2 separate regions of the Homo sapiens genome follow, and region 2 is linked to region 1. The links come from fine-mapping of genetic effects on gene expression. Tissue or cell type: lung. Region 1 holds a variant in brackets; the other region holds the start of a gene. All regions are shown on one strand. Distances are from middle to middle.

Evidence for each region. PIP is the estimated chance that this variant, and not a neighbour inherited with it, causes the effect.
Region 2: it holds the start of CNPY4, and the variant in region 1 is fine-mapped to the expression of CNPY4 in lung (TOPMed, PIP above 0.99). The same link has a PIP of 0.9 or more in breast, gastroesophageal junction, skeletal muscle, subcutaneous fat, transverse colon and visceral fat.

The regions. Positions count from the first base shown.
Region 1 is chr7:100,143,304-100,151,404 of GRCh38, reverse strand. LAMTOR4 (late endosomal/lysosomal adaptor, MAPK and MTOR activator 4) reads right to left here and starts at 2,487. Exons shown (of 4, transcript NM_001008395.4): 1 at 2,430-2,487; 2 at 1,826-1,906. The coding sequence starts at 2,432. RefSeq lists silencers at 1,918-2,007, 2,018-2,107 and enhancers at 1,647-2,259, 2,408-2,517, 2,788-2,847, 2,872-3,484. The variant A/C (reference allele first, on the strand shown) is at 3,443.
Region 2 is chr7:100,116,314-100,124,414 of GRCh38, reverse strand. CNPY4 (canopy FGF signaling regulator 4) reads right to left here and starts at 4,781. Exons shown (of 6, transcript NM_152755.2): 1 at 4,553-4,781; 2 at 2,030-2,156; 3 at 1,838-1,934; 4 at 1,509-1,631. The coding sequence starts at 4,670. TAF6 (TATA-box binding protein associated factor 6) reads left to right here and starts at 5,057. Exons shown (of 15, transcript NM_139315.3): 1 at 5,057-5,211. RefSeq lists enhancers at 4,085-4,154, 4,525-4,744, 4,955-5,104.

The DNA.
Region 1 (8,101 bases):
AAAAAACAAAAACAAAAACAAAAAAACAGGCCGGGTGCAGTGGCTTATGCCTGTAATCCCAGCACTTTGGGTGGGAGGCTGAGGCGGGCAAATCATGAGGTCAGGAGTTCGAGACCAGCCCGGCCAACATGGTGAAACCCTCTCTCTACTAAAAATACAAAAATTAGCTGGGCATGGTGGTGCACACCTGTAATCCTAGCTAATCAGGAGGCTGAGGCAGGAAAATCACTTGAACCCGGAAGACGGAGGTTGCAGTGAGCTGAGATCATGCCACTGCACTCCAGCCTGGGCCACAGAGCGAGACTCTGTCTCAAAAAACAAAAACAAAAAAAAACAAAAACAAAACTCTTCTCTCCTTGCTCCTCCTTCTTACCACCACTTGCCCAGTCTCATCTCTTTTTTTTTTTGTTTTTTTTGAGACGGAGTCTTGCTCTGTCGCCCAGGCTGGAGTACAGTGGTGTGATCTCGGCTAACTGCAACCTCCACCTTCCAGGTTCACGCCATTCTACTGCCTCAGCTTCCCGAGTAGCTGGGACTACAAGTGCCCGCCACCAGGCCTGGCTAATTTTGTTTTTGTATTTTTAGTACAGACGGGGTTTCACCGTGTTGGCCAGGATGGTCTCGATCTCCTGACCTCGTGATCCGCCCGCCTTGGCCTCCCAAAGTGCTAGAATTACAGGCATGAACCACCACGCCCAGCCCAGTCTCATCTCTTAATGACGCCTCCTTCTGCCCATCTTCACATCACTAACAACAATATTGCTCAACCACCTCACTGGGTCTTGTTTCTGTTTTAAAAAACCTTTCAAACTGTATTACCTTCAAGAATAAGTTCAAGTGTGTTAACCTGGCCTTGAAGATCCTTCACAATTACATCCTCCCTGACCATATCCTCCTCTCTTCCCTCAAACCTTCCCAAATCTTTTCAGCATAAACTTACCATCAGTTCAGATAGGTTAGTGCCACACACCTGCAAATAAGTCCTCCCCCACTGTAAATACTCTCCTTTAAGGTGGGCTGAATTCCTACCTCCCGGAAAGTTAGTTACCTTGTCATAACATGTTGAATTTTTAATATCCTGGATTCCCTCAATAGTCTTTACCACCTGTATTGTTTTCAACCCTTAACCTTAAGCTTTGTCTCTACCTAAGTCAAAAACATCTGGAGACTTAACACTATACAGTACTATGGAACAAAATACAAATGCCTCTTTAAGAAATACCAAATAAAGGCCAGACGTGGTGGCTCACGCCTGTAATCTAGAGACCTAACACCATACAGTACTATGGAACAAAATACAAATGCCTTTTTAAGAAATACCAAATAAAGGCCAGGCATGTTGGCTCACGCCTGTAATCCCAGCACTTTGGGAGGCTGAGGCAGGTGGATCACCTGAGGTCAGGAGTTTGAGACCAGCCTGGCTAACACGGTGAAACCCCGTTTCTACTAAAAATACAAAAAATTAGCAGAGCATGGTGGCACGTGCCTATAATCCCAGCTACTCGGGAGGCTGAGGCAGGAGAATCGCTTGAACCCCGGAGGCGGAGGTTGCAGTGAGCCGAGGTCGCACCACTGCACTCCAGCTTGGGCAACAAGAACGAAACTCAGTCTCAAAAACTATAAATAAATAAATCGCAGCCGTTAGGAGACTAAGATTCCACAGACTGATTACTGAAAGTAATTGCAAAAACTGCAAATACTTTTGTACCAACCTAATAGATGCCAGGCAGGAAACCAGATAAAAGCCGAGAAAAGAAGGGCCAATATTAGAAGGGGTTACCGGGCTGTGTGCACTAAGGGACCCCCTCCCTTTCCCAGAACGCACCGCCAGCACTGCACCTTCACTCAGTACCAGGTAGCCGAGCTGGTCTGGGATTCGCTCCAGCCCCTGGGTCAGCGCAGAAGTCTAGTGGGTAAAGATGCAAGTCGTGAGAAGCATGCTAGAGGGATGGACGGCCCGATACCCTTCACCTGCAAACCCAAGTCTCTGGGTTGACGATGGCCCCAGGTTTTCTCATTCCCCAGCCAGGTCCCTTCCCGGCCCCCTCCCCCCTACATGGTCCTCAATACTGATCTTCCCGAGCCTCCATCTGCCCCCACTCTCGCCCCCGGGCTCCCCTGGCCTTCCACATCCCACCTTTGCTACCCCAAGGGGCCTTTGCTGCCCCACTGGCCCCTGCCCCCAGACCCTCTCTTCACCTCCCTTCGTCTCCGCCCGACCTGCAGACTACCCGCAGCCCCAGAACACCCTCCCACAGACCCCTCCCCAGCATTCTCGTCGCCATCCCTCCCATTTCCATCCCCTCTTCCTCCCCGAGCGGATAGGAGGTGAGGGTGGAGCGCAGGCCCACCAGGGGGAAACCACACAGACTGGGGAGCAGAGACGCTGAACCCCCGGCGGGTCCTCTCGCGCATGCGTCCTCACTCACCATCGCAGTCTTCGGTGCTGGGGGAGCTCCCTACCAGATAGGTAGCTTCCGGCTTCAGGCCCCGGTCACGTGCTTGCAGCCGCTGCGCTCCTCCTTCTGCTTGCGCCACTGGCCTTTAGCCCCGCCTCTAGCATGAGGATTGGACAGTGGCCACGTCGTCAGACCCAACCAGCCAGTGCGAAGCGCTGTTTCCCGGAGGCGCACGTTGATTGGTGATATCCCCTCTTTAACACCCATCTCCCCGCCCCTCAGTGCCTGAGCGAGAGGAAGACGCGGGAGCGTCCGAGGAGGGGAGGATCTGGGAGGGGCGGGAGTAGGCCGGGGTTGACCGTTTGGTCCTGGGCGCACTGTCTGGAGCCAGAGTTCCGCCTGAGCCAGGATGCCCGCTGGTGTGACCCCCCCAAATGAATCCCTTCCCAGGTTTAAGACTGGACCCAAAAACTAGAGAATAAAAGGAAATAACGTGCAATGCATGTGAAAAACTATTCAAGGCTGGGCGCCGTGGCTCACGCCTGTAATCTCAGCGCTTTGCGAGGCCGAGGACGGATCATTTCAGGGCAAGAGTTCGAGACGAGCCTGAGCAACATAGCGAGACCCTCCCCAGTCCCCCCGCTCCAACCACCTCTACAAAAAAATAAGAAAATAAGCCGGGCATGGTGCCTCACGCCAGTAATTCCAGCTACTAGGGAGGCTGATGGAGGAGAATCTCTTGAGCTCAGCAGTTGCAGAGTGCAGTGAGCTATTATGGTGCCACTGCACTCCAGCCTGGGTGCCCTTCCTCTAAAAAAAAAAGAAAAGAAAAGGAAAAAAAAGGTACTCAAATGCTACTTTTTTTTTTTTTTGAGTCGGAGTCTCACTCGGTCGCCCAGGTTGCAGTGCAATGGCGCGATCTCTGGCTCAATACAACTTCCGCCTCCCGTGTTCAAGCAATTCTCCTGCCTCAGCCTCGCGAGTAGCTGGGATTACAGGCGCCCACCACCACGCCCGGCTATTTTTGTGTTTTTAGTAGAGAT[A/C]GGGTTTCACCATATTGGCCAGGCTGGTCTCAAACTCCTGACCTCGTGATCCGCCCGCCTCGGCCTCCCAAAGTGCTGGGATTACAGGCTTGAGCCACCGCGTCCGGCCCTCAAATGCTACTTTTGTGCCTACTCAAGACAGCTCTTTGTTGAAGACAAGAATTTGTTCCCGAAGTGGTTTTTTTGTCCCCAGATTCAGTCCGGGACAATGTGGTGGTAAATAGAATCCCCAGCTAGCCAATGCAGCTGCAATACTGAATATTCATTCCCTACAGGAAAAAATTAGAAACAGTACCTTGGAATGATACACACACACACACACACACACACACACACACACATCACACAATATATGTAAACATTAGAAATTTTTGTTTTAAATAATTTCTAAACCTGTTGCCATATTAATGTGGTGGAGGCTGTGTTAGTGAAATAATATGAAGAATGATTCTAGAAGCCTGGGCAACATAGCAAGACCCCATCTCTAAAAATTTAAAAATTAACCAGGCATGATACTGCACATGTAGTCCCAGCTACCCGGGAGGCTGAGGTGGGAGAATCGCTTGAGCCCAGGAGGTTGAGGCTGCAGTGAGCCATGATCATGCTACTGCACTCAAGACTGGGTAAAAGAGCAAGATTGTCTCAAAAAGCAACAAAAAAATCTGAATATAATAACAATTGTTAAAGTCTGGGTGTCTTTTAAGACTTGTTAGAAACAGCAATTTCAAGGCTGGGCGTGGTAGCTCACACCTGTAATCCCAGCACTTTGGGAGACCAAGGCGGGTGGATCACCTGAAGTCAGGAGTTCGAGACCTGCCTGGCCAACATGGTGAAACCTCATCACTACTAAAAATACAAAACAAACAAACAAAAAAAAAAAAAACTAGGTGGGTGTGGTGGTGCATGCCTGTAATCCCAGCTACTGGGGAGGCTGAGGCAGGAGAATCCTTGAATCCAGGAGGCGAAGGTTGCAATGAGCTGAGATTGTGCCATTGCACTCCAACCTGGGCAACAAGAATGAAACTCCGTCTCAAAAGAAAAAAAAAAGATTTTGATGTAATAAATTATGGTGGCAGTATTCTTGATATTTAACCATCTTTGTGTTTCTGGAATAAAATCTGCTGGAACAAATTATACTACCCATTTGTTTTACTGCTTTATTTAGAATTTTTAAAATCTATTATGATAAATGAGATTGGGCTGTAGTTTCTTTTTGGTATATTCTTTATCTGCTTTTGGTAGAAAGAGCAGGTTGCCAGATAAAATGAATCAGAGAGTTTCCTATCTTTTTTATCTATGGTCTGCAAATCAAACTGGTTGGACCAACTCACACTCCTCTAGCAATGTGTCAGAGTTCCCAGTTATCTCCAGCTCCATTAACACATGGTATTGCCACACTTTTTGTTTTTTGTTTTTTTTTTGAGACAGTCTTGTTCTGTTGCCCAGGCTGGAGTGCAGTGGCGCAATCTCAGCTCACTGCAACCTCCACCTCCTGGTTCCCGGGTTCAAGCAATTCTTCTGCCTCAGCCTCCCGAGTAGCTGGGACTACAGGAGCGCACCACCACACCCAGCTAATTTTTGTATTTTTAGTAGAGATGGGTTTCACCATGTTGGCCAGGATAGTCTTGATCTCTTGACCTCGTGATCTGCCTGCATCAGCCTCCCAAAGTGTTGGGATTACAGGCCTGAGCCACCATGCCCAGCCAGTATTGCCACACTTTTAGGGTAAAGTTTTTGGATATGCGATGGCTTCTCATTGTAGTTTTTATTTGCATTTACCTAAATATTAATGAGGTTGATCACATTTTCAGACAGGTTTGGCTTTTGGGATATCATCTTTTGTGAAGTATCAGTTCAACTTTTTTTTTTTTTTGAGACAGAGTCTTGCTATGTTGCCCAGGCTGGAGTGCAATGGTGCGCTCTTGGCTCACTGCAACCTCCGCCTCCTGGATTCAAGCAATTCCCTTGCCTCAGCCTCCCAAGTAGCTGGGACTACAGGGGCACGTTGCCATCCCGGCTTTTTTTTTTGTATTTTTAGTAGAGACGGGGTTTCACCGTGTTGCCCAGGCTGGTCTTGAACTCCTGAGCTCAGAGCAATCCACCTGCCTCGGCCTCCCAAAGTGCTACGATTACAGGCATGAGCCACTGCAACTGGCTTATTTATTTATTTTTTTTTTGAGATAGTCTTCCTCTGTTGCCCAGGCTAGAGAGCGGTGGTGCGATCTCGGCCCACTGCAACCTCCACCTCCCAGGTTCAAGCAATCCTCCTGCCTCAGCCTCCCGAGTAGCTGGGATTACAGGCACGCACCACCAGGCACGACTAATTTTTTTGGGTTTTTAGTAGAAAGGGGGTTTCACCATGTTGACCATGTTGGCCAGGCTGGTCTCAAACTCCTGACCTTAAGTGATCTACCCACCTCGGCCTCCCAAAGTGCTGGGATTACAGGCATGAGCCACCATGCCGGCCCAGTTCAACTCTTTTCTCATTTTTCTATTGAGTTTGTCTCTCTCTTTTTTTTTTTTTTTTTTTCCCGCCCAGGCTGGCTAGAGTGCAGTGGCGTGATCTCAGCTCACTGCAAACTCCTCCTCCCGGGTTCACATCATTCTCCTGCCTCAGCCTCCCGAGTAGTTGGGACTACAGGCGTCTGCCACCACGCCCGGCTAATTTTTTAGCTCAGGAGTTTGAGACCAGCCTGGCCAACGTGGCCTGTTGTGGGAAGTCAGGGACCCCAAACGGAGGGATTGGCTGAAGCCATGGCAGAAGAACGTGGATTGTGAAGATTTCATGGACATTTATTAGTTCCCCAAATTAATACTTTTATAATTTCTTACGCCTGTCTTTACTGCAATCTCTGAATGTAAATTGTGAAGATTTCATGGACGCTTATCACTTCCCCAATCAATACCCTTGTGATTTCCTATGCCTGTCTTTAATCTCTTAATCCCGTCATTTTGGTAAGCTGAGGAGGATGTATGTCACCTCAGGACCCTGTGATGATTGTGTTAACACAAATTGTTTGTAGAGGATGTGTGTTTGAACAATATGAAATCTGGGCACCTTGAAAAAAGAACAGGATAACAGCAATGTTCAGGGAACAAGAGAGATAACCTTAAACTCTGACTGCCGGTGAGCCGGGTGGAACAGTGCCATATTTCTCTTCTTTCAAAAGCAAATGGGAGAAATATTGCTGAATTCTTTTTCTCAGCAAGGAGCATCCCTGAGAAAGAGAGTGTGTCCCTGAGGGTAGGCCTCTGAAATGGCCGCTTTGTGGGGCGGCCGTCTTTCATGGTCGAAGCTGTAGGGATGAAATAAGCCCCAGTCTCCCGTAGCGCTCCCAGGCTTATTAGGACGAAGAAATTCCCGCCTAATAAATTTTGGTCAGACCAGTTGTCTGCTCAAACCTGTCTCCTGATAAGATGTTATCAATGACAATGCGTGCCCGAAACTTCATTAGCAATTTTAATTTGTCCCGTCTTGTGGTCCTGTGATCTCGCCCTGCCTCCATTTACCTTGTGATATCTTATTACCTTGTGAAGCATGTGATCTCTGTGACCCACACCCTATTCGTACACTCCCTCCCCTTTTGAAAAAATCACTAATAAAAACTTGCTGGTTTTTATTAGTCATCACGGAACCTGCCGACATGTGATGTCTTCCCTGGACACCCAGCTTTAAAATTTCTCTTTTTTGTACTCTGTCCCTTTATTTCTCAGACCGGCCGACTCTTAGGGAATATAGAAAAGAAGCTATGTGAAATATTGGGGGTGAATTTCCCCCGATAGCGGCCAAATCCTGTCTCTACTAAAAATTCAAAAATTGGCTGCACATATTGGCAGGCACCTGTAATCCCAGCTACTCGGGAGGCTCAGGCCTTGAACCTGGGAGACAGAGGTTGCAGTGAGCCAAGATCGCACTACTGCACTCCAGCCCGGATGATAGAGCGAGACTCAGTCTCAAAAAAAAAAAAAAGGAAAAAGTAATAATAAAACCACAGAATGAAGTTAAAGATAACTTTAGGCTGGGCGCAGTGGTTTACGCCTGTAATCTCAGCACTTTGGGAGGCCGAGGCAGGCGGATCACGAGGTCAGGTGTTAAAGACCAGCCTGGCCAACACTTTGAAACCCCGTCTCTACTAAAAATATAAAAATTAGCCAGGCGTGGTGGCATGTGCCTGTAATCCCAGCTACTCAGGTGGCTGAGGCAGGAGAATCGCTTGAATCCGGGAGGTGGAGGTTGCAGTGAATGGAGATCACACCACTGCACTCCAGCCTGGACAACAGAATGTGACTCCTTCTCAAAGAATAGACAAATAAATAAATAAATAAAAAGATAACTTTATTGGTGACTAGGGTTGTGTCAAAAGAACTCAAAGGCCAACTTGAAGAGGCTTCCACTGGACAAAAAAAAAAAAAGAATATTTTGAAATCAATCAGGACAATAACTGCAGTGAATTGAAACATAACAAACATGCCTAAATCCACAAACTTATTTTTAAATTTTTGTTTGTTATTGTTTGTTACAGAGATGAGGTCTCGCTATGTTGCCCAGGCTGCTCTTGAACTCCTGGTCTCAAGTGATCTGTGCCTCAGCCTTGCACAGTGCTGGAATTTCAGGTGTGAGCTGCACTGCCCGGCCACTGAGATCTTAAAATTGGACTT
Region 2 (8,101 bases), 27 kb after region 1:
GGTAGCCAGGAAGCTAAGTTTGGCCTACTAGATGTGCAATCCTCATTCATTCAACAAACATTTACCAGCACCTATTCTGCCAAGTAGATTATTAAACTCTTGAGTCTCAGCTCCTTGCCTGTAAAATATGTATGGTAATTGCACCTACCACATCAGGCTGTTAAGGGTAAAATGAGGCTACAGATGCAAAGTATCTGGTCCAGAGTCTGGGACACAGTAGGTGCTCAATAAGTGATGGTGGATATCATTAGCAACCATTGTTACTTTTTTTTTTTTTTGAGATGGAGTCTCGCTCTGTCACCCAGGCTGGACTGCAGTGGTGGGATCTCAGCTCACTGCAACCTCCGCCTCCCGGGTTCAAGTGATTCTCCTGCCTCAGCTTCCTGAGTAGCTGGGACTACAGATGCATGCCACCACACCACCACGCCCGGCTAATTCTTGTATTTTTAGTAGAGACAGGGTTTCACTATGATGGCCCGGCTGGTCTTGAACCCCTGATGTCGTGATCCGCCTGTCTCGCCCTCCCAAAGTGCTGGGATTACATACGTGAGCCATCGCACCTGGCCCATTATTACTTTTTAAAAATTTTCCTTAAGGCAGGGCCCAATGGCTCATGCCTGTAATCCCAGCACTTTGGGAGGCCAAGGCGGGTGGATCACCTGAGGTCAGGAGTTCGACCAGCCTGGCCAACATGATGAAACCCCGTCTCTACTAAAATTACAAAAAATTAGCTGGGCGTGGTGGCAGGGGCCTGTAATCCCAGCTACTCGGGAGGCTGAAGCAGGAGAATGGCTTGAACCCGGGAGGCGGAGGTCGCGGTGAGCCGAGATGGTGCCGGTGCACTCCAGCCTGGGCAATAAGAGTGAAACTCCGTCTTGAAAAAAAAAATTCTTTAAAATTATTATTATTTGTAGAGAAGGGGGTCTCTTATGTTGCACAAGCTGGTCTCTAACTCTGGTCTCAAACAGTCCTTCTCCCTCAGACTCACTAAGTGCTAGCATTACAGTTGTGAGCCACTCCACCCGGCTCATTATGATTTCTTTTTTTTTGTTTTTGTTTTTGTTTTTTTTTTTAAGATGGAGTCTTGCTCTGTCGCCCTGGCTGGAGTGCAATGGTGCGATCTTGGCTCATGGCAACCTCCACCTCCTGGATTCAAGCAATTCTCTTGCCTCAGCCTCCCAAGTAGCTGGGATCACAGGCGTGCACCACCACGCCCAGCTAACTTTTGTGTTTTTATTAAAGACGGGGTTTTGCCTTGTTGGCCAGGCTGGTCTCGAACTTATGACCTCAGGTGATCCACCTGCCTCAGCCTCCCAAATTGCTGGGATTACAGGTGTGAGCCACCGCACCCCACCGCTCCTGGACCCACTTTAATCAATGGCACAGTCCTCACTCTGGCCCCTTCCCCATGCTTAGGGGTAGACATCCCCTATAGTCAAACCCTAGAACCTAGCTCCCCTCTCAGGTTCCCTTCTCACCTCCCTGGATGGTGCAGTGTCTTATCCTACCTGCTTCTTGAGGTATGTGACCTCCACGCTGGGCTCATCCCAAAGCTCCAGAGGGATCCCCAGATCCACCTTCACCCCCTTCTGCACTAGGCCTTTCAGTGTTGCCATGGTCTGACTCTGACCCTGAGAGATTAAGAATTTGGCATCAGCCCAGCTCACCACCCCACCCCTCCCTTCCCCTTTCTGCCATTTCAGTTTTGTCAACTACTGGAGATTCAAGGGTGAGTTCCATGATGGTGAGATGATGGGCAGATAACCTCTGGAGGGCCTCAGGGGATACAGATCTTTGTATCTGAGAAGTGGGGTCCTGCCCTGGGGAAGGGTCTGACCTTGGCATATCTCAGTGAGCCCTTGCGCTCAGCGTGAACACTATAGTCCAGGATCCGCTCACATAAATTCTCTAAGGCCTCTTCCAGCCTTGTCTCTCTGTGGAAAGAGAGGAAACAAAGATTCCCTGGATGCTGTAGGAACTCCCAGGGCTCCGTTGGGGGTTGGAAAGGGGAGGAGCACGAAGGACTCACGAAACGCTGTAAGGCACGTGTCTCTTCCTCTTGCCTGTATCCAGCACCTGCCCCAGCTCCAGCACCTCTCGAGATCGACCGGTGCGACTCAGTTCCGCCTGTAGCTCTGTGCTCAGCAGCTTACACACTGGTGGGGAGGAGAAACGTCCGGGGGGAGGTAAAAGACAAACACACCAGCCATTCATTCTGCAGATGACCTGAGGCAGCAGAGCATACAAGTGCAGACTATGGAGCCAGACTGGCTGGGTTGGAATCCTGGCTCAGCCATTTAGCAGCTGTGTGGCAATCTTCCTGCTTGCTGTGCCTCGGTTTCTTCATCTTTTTTTTTTTTTTTTTCAGACGGACTCTCGCTCTGTCGCCCAGGCTGTAGTGCAGTGGCGCAGTCTCGGCTCACTGCCAGCTCCGCCTCCTGGGTTCACGCCATTCTCCTGCCTCAGTCTCCCGAGTAGCTGGGACTACAGGCACCCACCACCACGCCCGGCTAATTTTTTGTATTTTTAGTAGAGACAGGGTTTCACCGTGTTAGCCAGGATGGTCTCGATCAGCTGACCTTGTGATCCGCCCGCCTTGGCCTCCCAAAGTACTGGGATTACAGGCGTGAGCCACCACGCCCGGCCGGTTTCTTCATCTTTATAATGGGATAATAGGCCAGGAGTGGTGGCTCACACCTGTAATCCCAGCACTTTGGGAGGCTGAGGCGGGCAGATCACTTGAGGAGTTCAAGACCAGCCTGGCCCACATGGTGAAACCCCATCTCTATTAAAAATACAAAAACTAGCCAGGTGTGGTGGTGCGCACCTGTAATAGCTACTCGGGAAGCTGAGGCAGGAGAATCACTCGAACCCAGGAGGTGGAGGTTGCAGTGAGCTGAGATCCCACCACTGCACCCCAGCCCAGGCAACAAAGGGAGACTCCATCTTAAAAAAAGTAAAATACATTAAAAATAAATAGGCCAGCACAGTGACTCATGCCTGTAATCCCAACACTTTGGGAGGCTGAGGTGGGTGGATCACGAGGTCAAGAGATTGAGACCATCCTGGCCAACATAGTGAAACCTTGTCTCTACTAAAAATACAAAAATTAGCTGGGCATGGTGGCGGGCGCCTGTAATCCCAGCTACTTGGGAGGCTGAGGCAGGAGAATCGCTTGAACCCGGGAGGCGGAGGTTGCAGTGAGCGAGATTGCACCACTGCACTCCAGCCTGGGCAACGGCATGAGACGCTGTCTGAAAAGAGAAAAAAAAAAAAAAAAAAAAAAAAAAAAAAAAAATATATATATATATATATATATATATAAAATTAATACAATTGGATAATAATAGTATGTCCCTCATAGGAGTGTGATGAAGATTAAATAAATCAACATATATAAAGGCTGGCACATAGTGAGCACTGTATAAGTATTCACTGTTATCCTGCAGTTATTTATTGAGCTCCTTCTGTATGCATACTAACAATATAGACAGCAATAAGACCTATTATCTCTATCTACAGGTCTCTGTCAGTGTAGTTGGGACAGATAAACCAAGGATGACAAGCTGTGGTGAAGCTGGGCCTGAACTCATGGGCTCAAGTGATCCTCCCACCTTGGCCTTCCAAAGTGCTGGGATTACAGATGTGAGCCACTGTGCCCAGGCCCGTTGGCTGTATTCTGATAGAAGGCCTGCAGAGGTGTTAAAGCAAGGACTGATACAATTAGGTGATTAAGTCTGTTTAAAAAGATTGACAGGTCAGGGGAGAAGAGCGGCACACGGAGGTGAAAGGAGACAGAGATGAGGACCAAGTCATGAGACTGTCATGACTGCCTTTCATGATACTGGAATACAGTTGAGGGGGTGAAGCGAAGAGAAAAGGAATCCAGGGAAGAAACGTAAAGTCAGGAGGGCAGCAAACTAGGGCATCAGGGCCAGCCCCCTTTCTCAACTGGGCCCCACGCTAGTGCAGCTATGGAAGGCGCTGCTTGCTGAAAAATCCATATAGTACGCACCGTCTGCAAAGTCTCACCGGATGGGGACACTCTCCTAGTTGTGTGGCTTCCTTTTGTTTATGAGCTTCAAAGGCTGAATTACTCACCCTCAAACCCCCTCAGCGGGGTGTGGGGCCTGTAATTTGGGAGCGTCTATGCTAGGGTAGGGCAGCGGATGTCCACAAGGCCTGAGCCTCACACCCGGCTCCTGCAGCCTCTGCAGATTAAGGTCTGGTGACATGAGGTAAACACTCACTGAAGATGCTCTAAAAGTTGGCAGTCCCGGGCCGATGGTCCCTGAACTACAATTCCCACAATCCATTGGCGGGCGGGGGGTTCCAAGCCAGCCAAAAAAATGCAGGCTCTCTCTGGATGCAGTTTGAGGTGGCACTACACGTTCGCTTCCTTGACCCCATCCAAATTCAGCCAAGCTCCACCAGAACCTCCCTCAAGCCTTCAAGGAGGTCGGGTGACCCACCCAATACAGGCTAGGATGTCCGGCCTAGAAGAAGGAGGTGTGGCCGGGCGATGCCTATAGGGGCTACCCCCTTCAAATACCTTCGCATTTGCTGGGCAAGCGTTCTGTGTCATCGTCCTCCTCCTTCAACATCCCAGCCCAAGCCTCGTGCACGGCCAAAAAAAGGAAAAGCAATATTCCCAACCGCACAGGTCCCATGACAAAGCGCCGTCTACAAACAATCACCGCTTGCCTTCAACTTCGGGAAGGTAGTGTGGGTCCCTTAAATTCCCAGGCGGCTAGCGGCAACCTTAAATCCAGCCGAGGAAGGTCGGCGCATGCGCAGGATCAGCCCAACAAGGGTGGGGCCTCGTTGCTACGGGTTTCCCTGCCTCCGTTTTGTGGCGCCTCTTGAAGGTCCTGGCAGCCGGGTAGTGAAGGAATAAATTGCAGTAATTACACCAAGAGGGAGTGCTCCTTATATATAGATGTAGAAACAAACTTTTAAAATATAATTTCATTCTGCGAGCCTAGAGGACTTATTCTGGTACGGGGAAGGGGCAGTGACTTGCTCTTAGGCTCTGCCAGGACCTGCTCCCACGAGGGGGCGGGGCCAAGATGGCGCCGAGCGCCGGGTGAGCAGCGTCTCGGCTGCCGCTAGAGTTTTCCTGCTCCCCGCGCTCGGGTGGCGGGGGCGGGTCTGAGTGGTACCCCGGAGGAGACCCTTTGAAGGTCCCTTGTGGGGACTGGAAAGAGGACGGTTGGTTGTGTGTCTGTGCTCGTGGGGACCCCGTGTGTGTGCCTGCATTGGAGAGATGTTGCAGGAGATGGGGTGGGCTCTCTGAACCTCCTTTCGCGCTGCCCGGGGATCTTCGACCTGCTTCTCTGCTGGGATCTCGCTTAAGTTAACCCTTCCCTGGGACGCCTTCCTGCCGCCTCCACTGATCTGAGGAGATCCTGTGACTGTAGCGTGTTTTATGAGCCTTTACTGGCAGAGGGTACCGCCGGGTATTGAAGGATTCGTAGGAGTTCGCCAGGGAAGTGGGACACGACCCCCTCTTGTAAACCCGGCGCCAGGCACAGAGTATGTCTCGAATAGTTGTGTTCCCTATAGATAAGACTTATAAAAGTCGGGGAGGAGATCAGGGATGGTTTGAAAAGAACCAATTTGTTTTTCGGCCTCCCTCTTCCCATCCTTCCAGCACGGCCCCACCCTACCTGTACTACTCCTAAGCAGTATTGATATGTTAATCTTCCTAATGTCCAACTGCAAGTGTGCCACTTTAATTTTTTTTTGTTTTTTTTTTGAGACAGGGTTTCCGTCTGTTACCCAGGCTGTTGTGCAGTGGCACCATCTTGGCTCACTGCAGCCTCCAACTCCTCAGTTCAAGCGATCCTCCTGCCTCAGCCTCCTAAGTAGCTGGGATGACAGGTTCACACCACCAGGTCCGTCTAATTTTTTAATTTTTGCAGAAATGGGGGTCTCACTATGTTGACCAGGCTGTCTCAAACTCCTGGCCTCAAACAATCCCCCCACCTCTGCCTTCCAAAGTGCTGGGATTACTGGGGTGAGTTACCTCTCTTGGCTCCAATTTGCTTTTTTTTTTTTTTTGAGATGGAGTCTCTCTCTATCGCCCAGGCTGGAGTGCAGTGGCACGATCTCGGTTCACTGCAACCTCCGCTTCCTGGTTCAAGCGGTTCTCCCACCTCAGCCTCCCAGATAGCTGGGACTACAGGCGCCCGCCACCATGTCTGGTTAATTTTTGTGTTTTTACAAAAAGACAGGGTTTCACCATGTTGGCCAGGGTGGTCTCGAACTCCTAACCTCAGGTGATCTTCCCGCCTTGGCCTCCCAAATTACAGGCGTGAGCCACTGCACCTGGCTCCACTTTGCTTTTTTTGTTTTTTTTTTTTTTTTGAGACAGAGTCTGGCTCTGTTGCCCAGGCTGGAGTGCAGTGGTGCGATCTCGGCTCACTGCAAGCTCCGCCTCCCGGGCTCACGCCATTCTCCTGCCTCAGCAGCCTCCCGAGTAGCAGGGACTATAGGTGCCTGCCACCATGCCTGGCTAATTTTTTCTATTTTTTAGTAGAGACGAGGTTTCACCTTGTTAGCCAGGATGGTCTCAATCTCCTGACCTAGTGATCCGCCCGCCTCGGCCTCCCAAAGTGCTGGGATTACAGGCGTGAGCCACCACGGCCGGCCCAGTTTGCTTTTAACTACAGTGTAGGCTCAAAGCTTGGGCCTATGACCTATTAATAATAGTGATACCAAGTATTTACTGAGCACCAATATCTCTAAGCCTTACAACTAATTCATTTACTTCACAAATATTTATGATGTCCCAGGCTGGGCTCCTGGAATACATCAGTGAACATAATAAAGAGCTCTGTCGGCCGGGCACAGTGGCTCACGCCTGTAATCCCAGCACTTTGGGAGGCCAGGGTGGGTGGAACACCTGAGGTCAGGAGTTCAAGACCAGCCTGAGCAACATGGTGAAACCCCATCTCTACTAAAAATACAAAAATTAGCCAGGTGTGGTGGCGCATGCCTGTAATCCCAGCTACGCAGGAGGCTGAGACAGGAGAATTGCTTGAATCTGGGAGGCGGAGGTTGCAGTGAGCCAAGATCGCGCCATTGCTCTCCAGCCTGGACAACAAGAGTGAAACTCTAGCTCAAAAAAAAAAAAAAAAAAAAAGAGCCCTGTCTAGATGGTGGACGGAGACGGGGTCTCACTCTGTTGCCAGGCTGGAGTGCAGTGGCACAACCTCTACTCACTGCAACCTCCACCTCCTGGGTTCAAGCAATTCTCCTGCCTCAGCCTCCCGAGTATCTGGGACTACAGGTGCACATCACCACGCCCAGCTAATTTTTGTATTTTTAGTAGAGATGGGGTTTAACCATGTTGGCCAGGATGGTCTCGATCTCTTGACCTCGTGATCTGCCCACCTCGGCCTCCCAAAGTGTTGGGATTACAGGCGTGAGCCACTGCGCCATGCCCAAAAGATGTTAAATGCTATGGAAAAGAAAAAGTGGGCTGCCCCCACTCTGAGGGCAGAGTGCAGAGTTAAATAGGGTGGTCAGGGTAGGCAGCCAATTAGATATTTGGGAAGAACATTCCAGGCAGAGGGAATGCAGCAAAGGCTATTAAGCAAGTACATACCTGGCAAGTTTAAGGAGCAGCCAGAAGGAATGTATGTGTCTGGATCAAAGTGGAAGAAGGAAGGGCGTTCAGAGATATAATGGGGAGAAGGTAATTTTGAAGGGCTTTGTAGGACATTATAAGGATTTCGTCTGTTTTTTTTGTTGTTGTTGTTGTTGTTTTTGAGAAGAAGTCTTGCTTTGTTGCCCAGGCTGGAGTGCAATGACACAGATCTTTGCTCACTGCAACCTCCGCCTCCCGGGTTCGAGTGATTCTTCTGCCTCAGCCTCCCGAGTAGCTGTGATTACAGGTGCCCGCCACCATGCCCATCTAATTTTTTTATTTTTAGTAGAGATAGGGTTTCACCATGTTGGCCAGGCTGGTCTTGAACTCCTGCCCTCAAGTGATCCGCCCACCTTCGTCTCCCAAAGTGCTAGGATTACAGGCGTGAGCCACTGTGCCTGGCCTGAGATGGGGTTTTGCTATGTTGCCCAGGGTGGTCAGGAATTC